2 separate regions of the Homo sapiens genome follow, and region 2 is reported to be linked to region 1. The links are microRNA targets in miRTarBase. Many come from high-throughput screens and were not tested one by one. Region 1 holds a microRNA gene; the other region holds the end of a gene's coding sequence.

The links. Region 1 holds the annotated microRNA hsa-miR-6792-3p (CUCCUCCACAGCCCCUGCUCAU, at 2,815-2,836, opposite strand). A microRNA usually pairs through its seed, bases 2 to 8, with sites in the 3' UTR of a target mRNA and lowers its output. Matches are read on the target gene's strand: a 7mer-m8 pairs with bases 2 to 8, a 7mer-A1 pairs with bases 2 to 7 and ends in A, and an 8mer does both.
Region 2: the mRNA of TXLNG is a reported target of hsa-miR-6792-3p. Seed matches in the 3' UTR shown: 7mer-m8 at 1,890-1,896 and 8mer at 1,948-1,955.

Annotation. Positions count from the first base shown.
Region 1 is chr19:7,615,388-7,620,315 of GRCh38, reverse strand. It overlaps MIR6792 (microRNA 6792), which reads right to left and starts at 2,877; the gene lies at 2,811-2,877. CAMSAP3 (calmodulin regulated spectrin associated protein family member 3) reads right to left here. Exons shown (of 17, transcript NM_020902.2): 13 at 4,597-4,898; 14 at 3,694-3,793; 15 at 2,878-2,990; 16 at 2,655-2,773; 17 at 2,012-2,564. The coding sequence ends at 2,259. XAB2 (XPA binding protein 2) reads left to right here. Exons shown (of 19, transcript NM_020196.3): 16 at 1-41; 17 at 241-370; 18 at 460-569; 19 at 669-791. The coding sequence ends at 730.
Region 2 is chrX:16,841,453-16,844,452 of GRCh38, forward strand. It overlaps TXLNG (taxilin gamma), which reads left to right. Exons shown (of 10, transcript NM_018360.3): 10 at 1-3,000. The coding sequence ends at 314. It overlaps RBBP7 (RB binding protein 7, chromatin remodeling factor), which reads right to left. Exons shown (of 12, transcript NM_002893.4): 12 at 2,889-3,000. Among named protein-coding and RNA genes, the nearest start is that of RBBP7, 27 kb to the right of the region's middle.

The sequences.
Region 1 (4,928 bases):
CTCGCAGATGCTCAAGGTCTCGGGCAGTGCCACGGGCACCGGTGAGCCGTCCCAGCTGGCTGAGTTCCTGATCCAGGGCATCTCAGCCCGGCCTGACCTGGGCTTTCCGGGTCTGGGAGCCTCGGATCCTGATGGCAATCTCCTTGAGGGCTGGGCCATCACCTGGGGGACTGGGATAGTGCAACGTCCGATGTGTGGGAGGGGCCCCCGTGGCGCTGACCCCCTGCTCCCACCCCCTAGTGTCTGACCTGGCCCCTGGGCAGAGTGGCATGGACGACATGAAGCTGCTGGAACAGCGGGCAGAGCAGCTGGCGGCTGAGGCGGAGCGTGACCAGCCCTTGCGCGCCCAGAGCAAGATCCTGTTCGTGAGGTGAGGGCGGATCCTTGGACGGGACAGGACTGGGACAGGTCCCAAGGGGGCCCGGGGTGGGGAACTGAGGCAGCATGGCCCGTCCCTAGGAGTGACGCCTCCCGGGAGGAGCTGGCAGAGCTGGCACAGCAGGTCAACCCCGAGGAGATCCAGCTGGGCGAGGACGAGGACGAGGACGAGATGGACCTGGAGCCCAACGGTGAGGGCCCGGCTGGGGCGGGGACGGTGGCATTACCAGGGTGGGCCTCGGGGGACAGGCCAACGCCAGGAGGGTGACTGGCTCCCGCCTTCCCCACAGAGGTTCGGCTGGAGCAGCAGAGCGTGCCAGCCGCAGTGTTTGGGAGCCTGAAGGAAGACTGACCCGTCCCTCCCCCATCCCCCCTCCCCACCCCCTCCCCAATACAGCTACGTTTGTACATCATGGTCTGAGCCTCCTTCCTGCTGCCCAGGTGCCCGAGGGAGTACAGCTCAGGAGTGCCTGGCCCTGGGCCGGGATTGGCTGCTGTGGGAGGTGGGGCGGCTGGGCCCCAGGCCAGATACTGCCCGGCCTCACCCCGCAGAGCCAGTTCTGGACTCGAGAGGCCAGTCCCTCCGCTGCCTGGGGCCTTGGAGTGGGTCCTGCCCGGAAACTTCCTTGAGCCTCTGTAGCCTGGGAAGGGCAATCCAGCCCCTGGCTGCCCAGGTCTCGCCAGCCCCTGCCTCTCAGAGCCCTTCTGTGGCCCCAGGCAGCTGCCGCCTCCCTGGGGTGGCACCCACTGTCTGTTCCCCACTAGGGACTGGCCCTTGCCCTCAAGTCTTGGAGTCAGGCAGGCTCTGGCCCAGCTCTGGGAACTGATTAGTAACGCGTTTCTGTGCCTGGACGGGGGCCAGGCGCCAGACCTTGTGCACGGCCCAGGACCAGGGCGTGGTCCTTAGTCCTAAGCCTGGGAAGCCATTAGCGGGCTGTAGGCTATTAAGGGGTTTTAAGTATCAAGGGATATAATCAGATTTGTGCTTCGAACGGGTCACACAGGCTGCTGTGTGGGCAGGAGGCAGCTGGGGACATGGGGAGGCCCAGGCCATTGGCTTGGACTTTGCAGGGAGGTGACAGGGCTGGAGAGAAGCGAGTGAGACAGGAGGGGAGGGCTGAGCTGTGTAGAACTGGGCGGCAGCTGGGAAGCCAGTGCCAGCCTGGGTTGCAGGGCAGGCCTTGCATCTGAGAGAGACACCCAGGCAATGGCAGGGGGCAACTGGATTGTCAAACACAGATCTCAGAGAAACCTGGAATCACTGGCCCAGAGGTAGATGCCAGGCCTGGAAACACCAGGCTGGCCAGGGGAGACAAGATCAAGTTAGAAGTTGGCCCCATGCCAAACGCTGGTTAGGGCCAGTAACAACAGCCACACAGACCAGGAGAATCCAGCAAGCGGGGGTGGCCAAGGCCACAGGAAGGGCCAGTGGGACACCTCGAGCCTGAGAGATCAGTTCAGAGGCAGCTTCGAAACAGCCCTGGCTGGGGGCTGGGAGTGCCCTGGCTGAAGCTGCATTAGGGGATTATGGGGGTTGAAGACAGGAGTTGGTTTGAGAAAGAACAGGAGACTAAAAACACAGCCAGGGAGTGTGGGACCCCGGCCAGCCTCGGAGGGGGGGACAAGGTTCAACTTCTCTTTAAATTATTTTATTCAAGAAGTGGGGGAGGACAGACAAGGGGACTGAGCTGAGCCCTGAGTCCCTGAACCTCCCAGCTCAGCCCCCACAGCAGGACTGGACTCAAAGTCAGAGGGTGGAGACTCCAGCCCCACCCAGACACGGTTGGGGACAGACAGGACCCAGGAATACCGACTGACTGTCCTCCAGGGGATGGCGGCCGCAGCACACAGGGCCCGGCCCGTGGACCGCCCGGGTGGGGCTATTTGGGGGTGCCGCCGCCCTTCTTGGGAGTGGTGGGTTTCTTGCCCTGCCAGAGGTGTCCCTGGATGGTGAAGGCATCGACGCTCATGGACATGGTCTTGGCGGGGATCTGGGTGAAGCGCTTGCGGTCCGAGTTGTACTTGTAGATGCCTTCCACCATGGCGGGCGTGACGGTCCGGGGCCCATACCCTGCCAGCCGCGACAGCTCCTCTGTCTCCCCCGACAGCGTGTAGAGCGCCCGGAACTGGCAGCTCGAGTCGCGAAAGAGGATCAGGAAGTGGTTGGCCTTGCTTTTCTCAATTTCCTGGGCAGGAGTGCTGGAAATGGTCAGCTGGCCAAGTCAGGCCACCCACCCACCCACCAGCCCCCAACTCCCACGTGTGGGCGGGCTCACCTCCAGAATGCGATTCTTCTGCGGTTCGTTCACCTTGCCCGCCAGGCAGCAGTGTGATAGGGCATTGTGGATGATGAACTTGTTGGACTTGGCGCTGGGTTCTTTGTACAGCCGTGGACCTAGAGGGTGAGGCAGTGGGAGGGGGTGGGGGGCAGCAGGAATGAGCAGGGGCTGTGGAGGAGGGTGCCTGTTGCTCCTCACATCACCCAGAGCCCCTGCTTACCTGTGTACTCGGGCACTGACGCTGGGGAGGAGGCATTGCTGCCATTTTCCCAGTCCCGTTCGCGGCTTCCAGGCAGGCGGCTTGGGGACATGAGACCTGACGGGGAGGGAGCCCTGCAGTGGGAGAAGGATGGGATGGAGGTGGGGTCAGGATGGGATGGAGGTGGGGTCAGAGATGGGAAGCTTCCCTATGTGCAGAGGGGCCAAGGAAAATAAGGGCCACGGCTGGGCATCGTGGCTCATGCCTGTAATCCCAGCACTTCGGGAGGCCAAAGCGGGCAGATCACTTGAGGTCGGGAGTTCGAGGCCAGCCTGGCCAACATGGTGAAACACCGTCTCTACAGGCACGGGTAACCCCAGCTACTCAGGAGGCTGAGGCACGAGAATCACTTGCACCCAGGGGGCGGAGGTTGCCGTGAGCCAAGATTGCGCCACTGCACTCCAGCCTGGGCGACACAGCAAGACTCCCTCTCAAAAAAACAAAAAAAAAAAAAAAAAAAAAAAAGGCGGGCCACACACACTGCAGAGGAGGCGGTATACACTGCACACCCTCCCAAGTCCATGCAGTGCCCCGTGCTGTCCTCCTCCCACAGGAACACCTGGCACTCAAGTGCACTGAGGCACATGCTTGAGTCCTGTCTGCCAGGTACAGACTATGCCCCATGCACACGTGCCCACACGCGTCCCTCCATCTCTTCATGGCGTATCCATAAACTCGAGCCATACCGCCCTCTAGGTTCACCCAGATGCCCACACACCTCCCAGGCTCTGGGAAGCCACCCGGCATACGAACCCCGCCTGTGCGGGCTAAACTCACCGAGACGTGGGCCTCTTCACCCCGAGGTTATTGTGGGCCTCGTTGGCCACAGTGGACAGTGACAGGGTGGACTGGGAATAGATTTTGCTCAGCCGAGAGCCTGGGGACAGAGATTGCAGGTCAGTGCCCACCAGAAGCCCCTGCCCTCCACAACACCCGGTCCAGCAGGCTGTGGGGGGAACACAGGAGGAGTCAGTCCTGCCCAAGACCCCTCGGCCCTCTGCAGCACCCCTATGGGGGGACCCCTCTATGAGGGAGGATGCTTTGCCCAGCAGGCAAGTGGGGAGCAGCACTGGGTCAGCCCCTACTGGCAACGCCTCACCCCAAACATACTCCCAAAGGTTCCTATCCATGAAGCCACAGAAGAAAGACCCCTCATCCCACTGCACCCCACATCCCTATGGAAGTCTTTTTTTTTTTTTTTTGTCTTATTTCTGAGACGGAGTCTCGCTCTGTTGCCCAGGCTGGAGTACAGTGGTGCAATCTTGGCTCACCGCAACCTCCACCTCCCAGGCTCAAGCGATTCTCCTGCCTCAGTCTCCCAAGTAGCTGGGACTACAGGCATGCCATATGCCCGGCTAATTTTTGTATTTTTAATAGAGATGGGCTTTCACCATGTTGGCCAGGCTGGTCTCAAACTCCTGACCTCAGGTGATCCGCCCGCCTCAGCCTCCCAAAGTGCTGGGATTACAGGCGTGAGCCACCGCGCCCGGCCCCCTATGGAAGTCTTTACCCAAGAGACAGTGTCCAACCCCACCTGAGGCCCCCTGTCACCCCACATACCCGCCCCCTCCCGGCACCCCTGCTTACATCTCCCTCCCCCTCCCCCCTTACCCATGGGGGCCTCACCCAGTGAGCCCCGGAAAGGGCACTGGGCAGGCCCCGTCCCCCAAGGGTCCTCACCCAGCAGGCCGCGGGCTGGGCTTCGTGCCAGGGCTGAGTCGTCACAGCAACCCGAGCGAGGCCGGGTGGCCCTCCGCCCGCCCCGACCTGGACCCCCGGACCCCGCAGCCCGGGGCCGCAGCACCTTATCGAGGTCGTCCATCAGCTTCAGCTGGGCCCGGCGCTCGTACTCCTGCCGCGTGAAGTCCCCCTTCCGGGGGCCCACCTCCTCCTCGGCTGGAGCCCGGGCAGCAGGGGCTGGAGTCGCCATCGGGACTGCGGACACAAGCGGGGCTGGGCCCGGGGCCTCCTCTTGGGCCAGCCTGCAGATCACAGGGAATCGGCATCAGAAC
Region 2 (3,000 bases), not on the chromosome of region 1:
AGGCCCTTCAAATAAAACTGGAACGGTTAGAGAAGCTGTGCAGGGCTCTTCAGACAGAAAGGAATGAGCTCAATGAGAAGGTGGAAGTCCTGAAAGAGCAGGTATCCATCAAAGCGGCCATCAAAGCGGCGAACAGGGATTTAGCAACACCTGTGATGCAGCCCTGTACTGCCCTGGATTCTCACAAGGAGCTGAACACTTCCTCGAAAAGAGCCCTGGGAGCGCACCTGGAGGCTGAGCCCAAGAGTCAGAGAAGCGCTGTGCAAAAGCCCCCGTCCACAGGCTCTGCTCCGGCCATCGAGTCGGTTGACTAAGATGAGGTGTGATCACTGTATTGAGAGATATATTTTGTGTATAACTTTCTCTGTTAGTAGTTAACTATTGGTTTTGTGGTGAAAATTTTCTTACTTTTTCTACCATATCTGTATTTTCTTAGAACTACTGGACTTATGTGGTACAGGAGGCTGCTTAGCAGTTTTGAATAGTTTAATCTATAAATTTTCCTCAGCTGTGTTGCACATCAGCCTCGTTCTCCCTCCACTGGAATGCATGTGTTCATTGCCTTGTCCTTTCTCTCCCTGCTCCTTGCACATTATCATCCTAATGAAAATTTCACTGACAGGGCCGACCATTACAAGGGAACTTTGTTCTGACGATGGTTCCTTGATGTGAAAACAATATTAATTTAAACGTCTTAGCCCCCCCCCCCATAATATTATTCAGAAAAACAAAATACCAAGGCGATTAGTTTTGTCTAATAACCCATTTAAATGCCAAGTAAAAATAAAACTCCTAGTGTTGGGTCAGAAGCATATTTGATTGAAATTAGCTTTTTGAAAACATTTATATCTCGGGACAAATTGAGATGGCCACATGCCTAGAATCCTAAGTTTCGGCAGAATATGTATATAAAGATGTCACTTGTGGACAAAATAGTACATAGAGGCAAATCACTAGACAAATAAGCTTAGTGTTTACGTGACTGAACAGTCATCCTGCTTTGGTTTCAGGTGTGGGATTTGGACCATGAGGGGCTCCCGTAGAGGATGGCGGTTTGTGTTTGATTCTGATTTGGGATTTCAGTACATATTCTCCACTTCCCATAGAAGGCCACTTATTCTTTGAAAACTGGTGTTCATGTTTGCCGTTCAATGAAGTCCCTTGTCAAAGACAAGGACGGTCAATTCACGTGTCACTTTCACTAGGCAGAAGTTTCTCCAATACCTTCTGGCTACTTGAAAGTTACTACAAAAATTCCACCAGCAAAGTACTCCAGGTTTTTCAAAAGGGAATTTTCATTATGGATCAGTACCAACCGAAATTGATTTTCATTTCCAAAACAAACACTGGCACCAACATTTTTACTTTGGGAAGACTTGGCAGAGTGTTAGTCATGATCTGTTACTTACGTGTTCAGTCTGTTTTCTCACCCCCTTCTTAGTTACCATCTCTTTTTTAAGAAGAAAAAAGAAAAGCCACAGTATTATCAAGGTCTCTACACTTGGACTGGGGGAAAATTTGAAATTAAGCACATAACTTTTGAATTAGTTCTTTGTTTCAATGTTGAATGTGGCGCAGTTATGCAGATGATTAATCAGGCTGCACTGATGGAAGTTTTGACTTTGTCCCTGGTATAATTTGCATTGAAATGCTTTATGAAATAAAAGGTTCTACTAGAACTGATGTTAGCACATTCCACTGAGCAAAACTATCAGACTGACACTTGTTAAATTGCTTACTGGACTGAATAAACTCTGTTTTGTCCAGTTAAAAGGGTTTTCTCTTTGTTACAAGTGTTATTTGTAAAGTCCTGTCACATTCATGGTCGAAACTGGGTTGAAAGAATTGAAAATTGTCCAACAGATAGATAGATAGGAAACCGCCTGGAGTGGAGGAGGGTTGTATCTAAGCCTCCACTATCAGTCATGTTAATTCAAGGGGCCACAGTGGAGGAAAATAAATCCACAAAGTAGATTATCTAATTACCATCAAAATGAGTCAGAAGCAAAAAACACCACCCTCCAACAGCCTCTTAGGAGTACACCCTGTTCTGCTACTAAAATACTAGACTCATTTCCCTGGTGGTGGGGGGGAATGCAGGTATAGATCAGAAATATAATCCACCTTAAAATTAGTACTAATGATCACATTATTTCACAAGAACTCTGCTGGATGTACAGCTCTTAACATTTTATTAAGCCATTTGTGTAGCCCACCACGTTTCTTTGTGGTGCTTGTCCTGTGTGGAAGATTGTAAATCTTGGGCCTGTTGCATACTTCCAAGGGCTTTAAAGCAATGTGATTAACAGTACTTGGCCTGCTGCTTTTGGCTTACTTTGTATTTTTAGCTAGATGCTATTATAGTGTTGAAAGGATATGGATTCTGTCTGGGATGCATTTGTTGTCCTTTCAGAACCCTTCCTCCCATTACCCTGTGAATAAAAACAAATGGGACCCCCTGAGAAGGACATCTTCCTACAGTGATCACCTCACCAGCCCAGTGTTGTGGCTTTGTAGCGCACCCCGTATCTACCATATTCTAGAACACTGTAATGCTACTAGGCTGGCCCAGAAAAGGTTTAAATGTTGAATTCACTTAAATTGCAATTGTTGCACCATCATGGAATCGTGATGTGTATTATTTATATTGGCGGTGGACTCCAAGGTGTAGAGAAAACTTGGGTCTTGGGTAATATGGACCATTTCATCCTCAGACTTGTTAGGAGTACATTTCTTGGTCTTGAGACCAGTATTTTTCAGTTATGTATGCAACTGCCTTTATTACACCTGGTTATCACAATTCAATTCTCAGGTGTTGCAGAAAAATCTACCTCTTTCAGACTGTAGATGGAAATAACTGTGAAAAAAATGATGCAGATATCTTCTAGTTTGTGCTAAACACACTGCTTTATTTTTACAGCCCACGTCTTTCATGAGGATACGAATTGTTAAGAGGCAGTCTCGTTTTGCTTTTCAAAGACATTTTGTAGAGATTTTTCA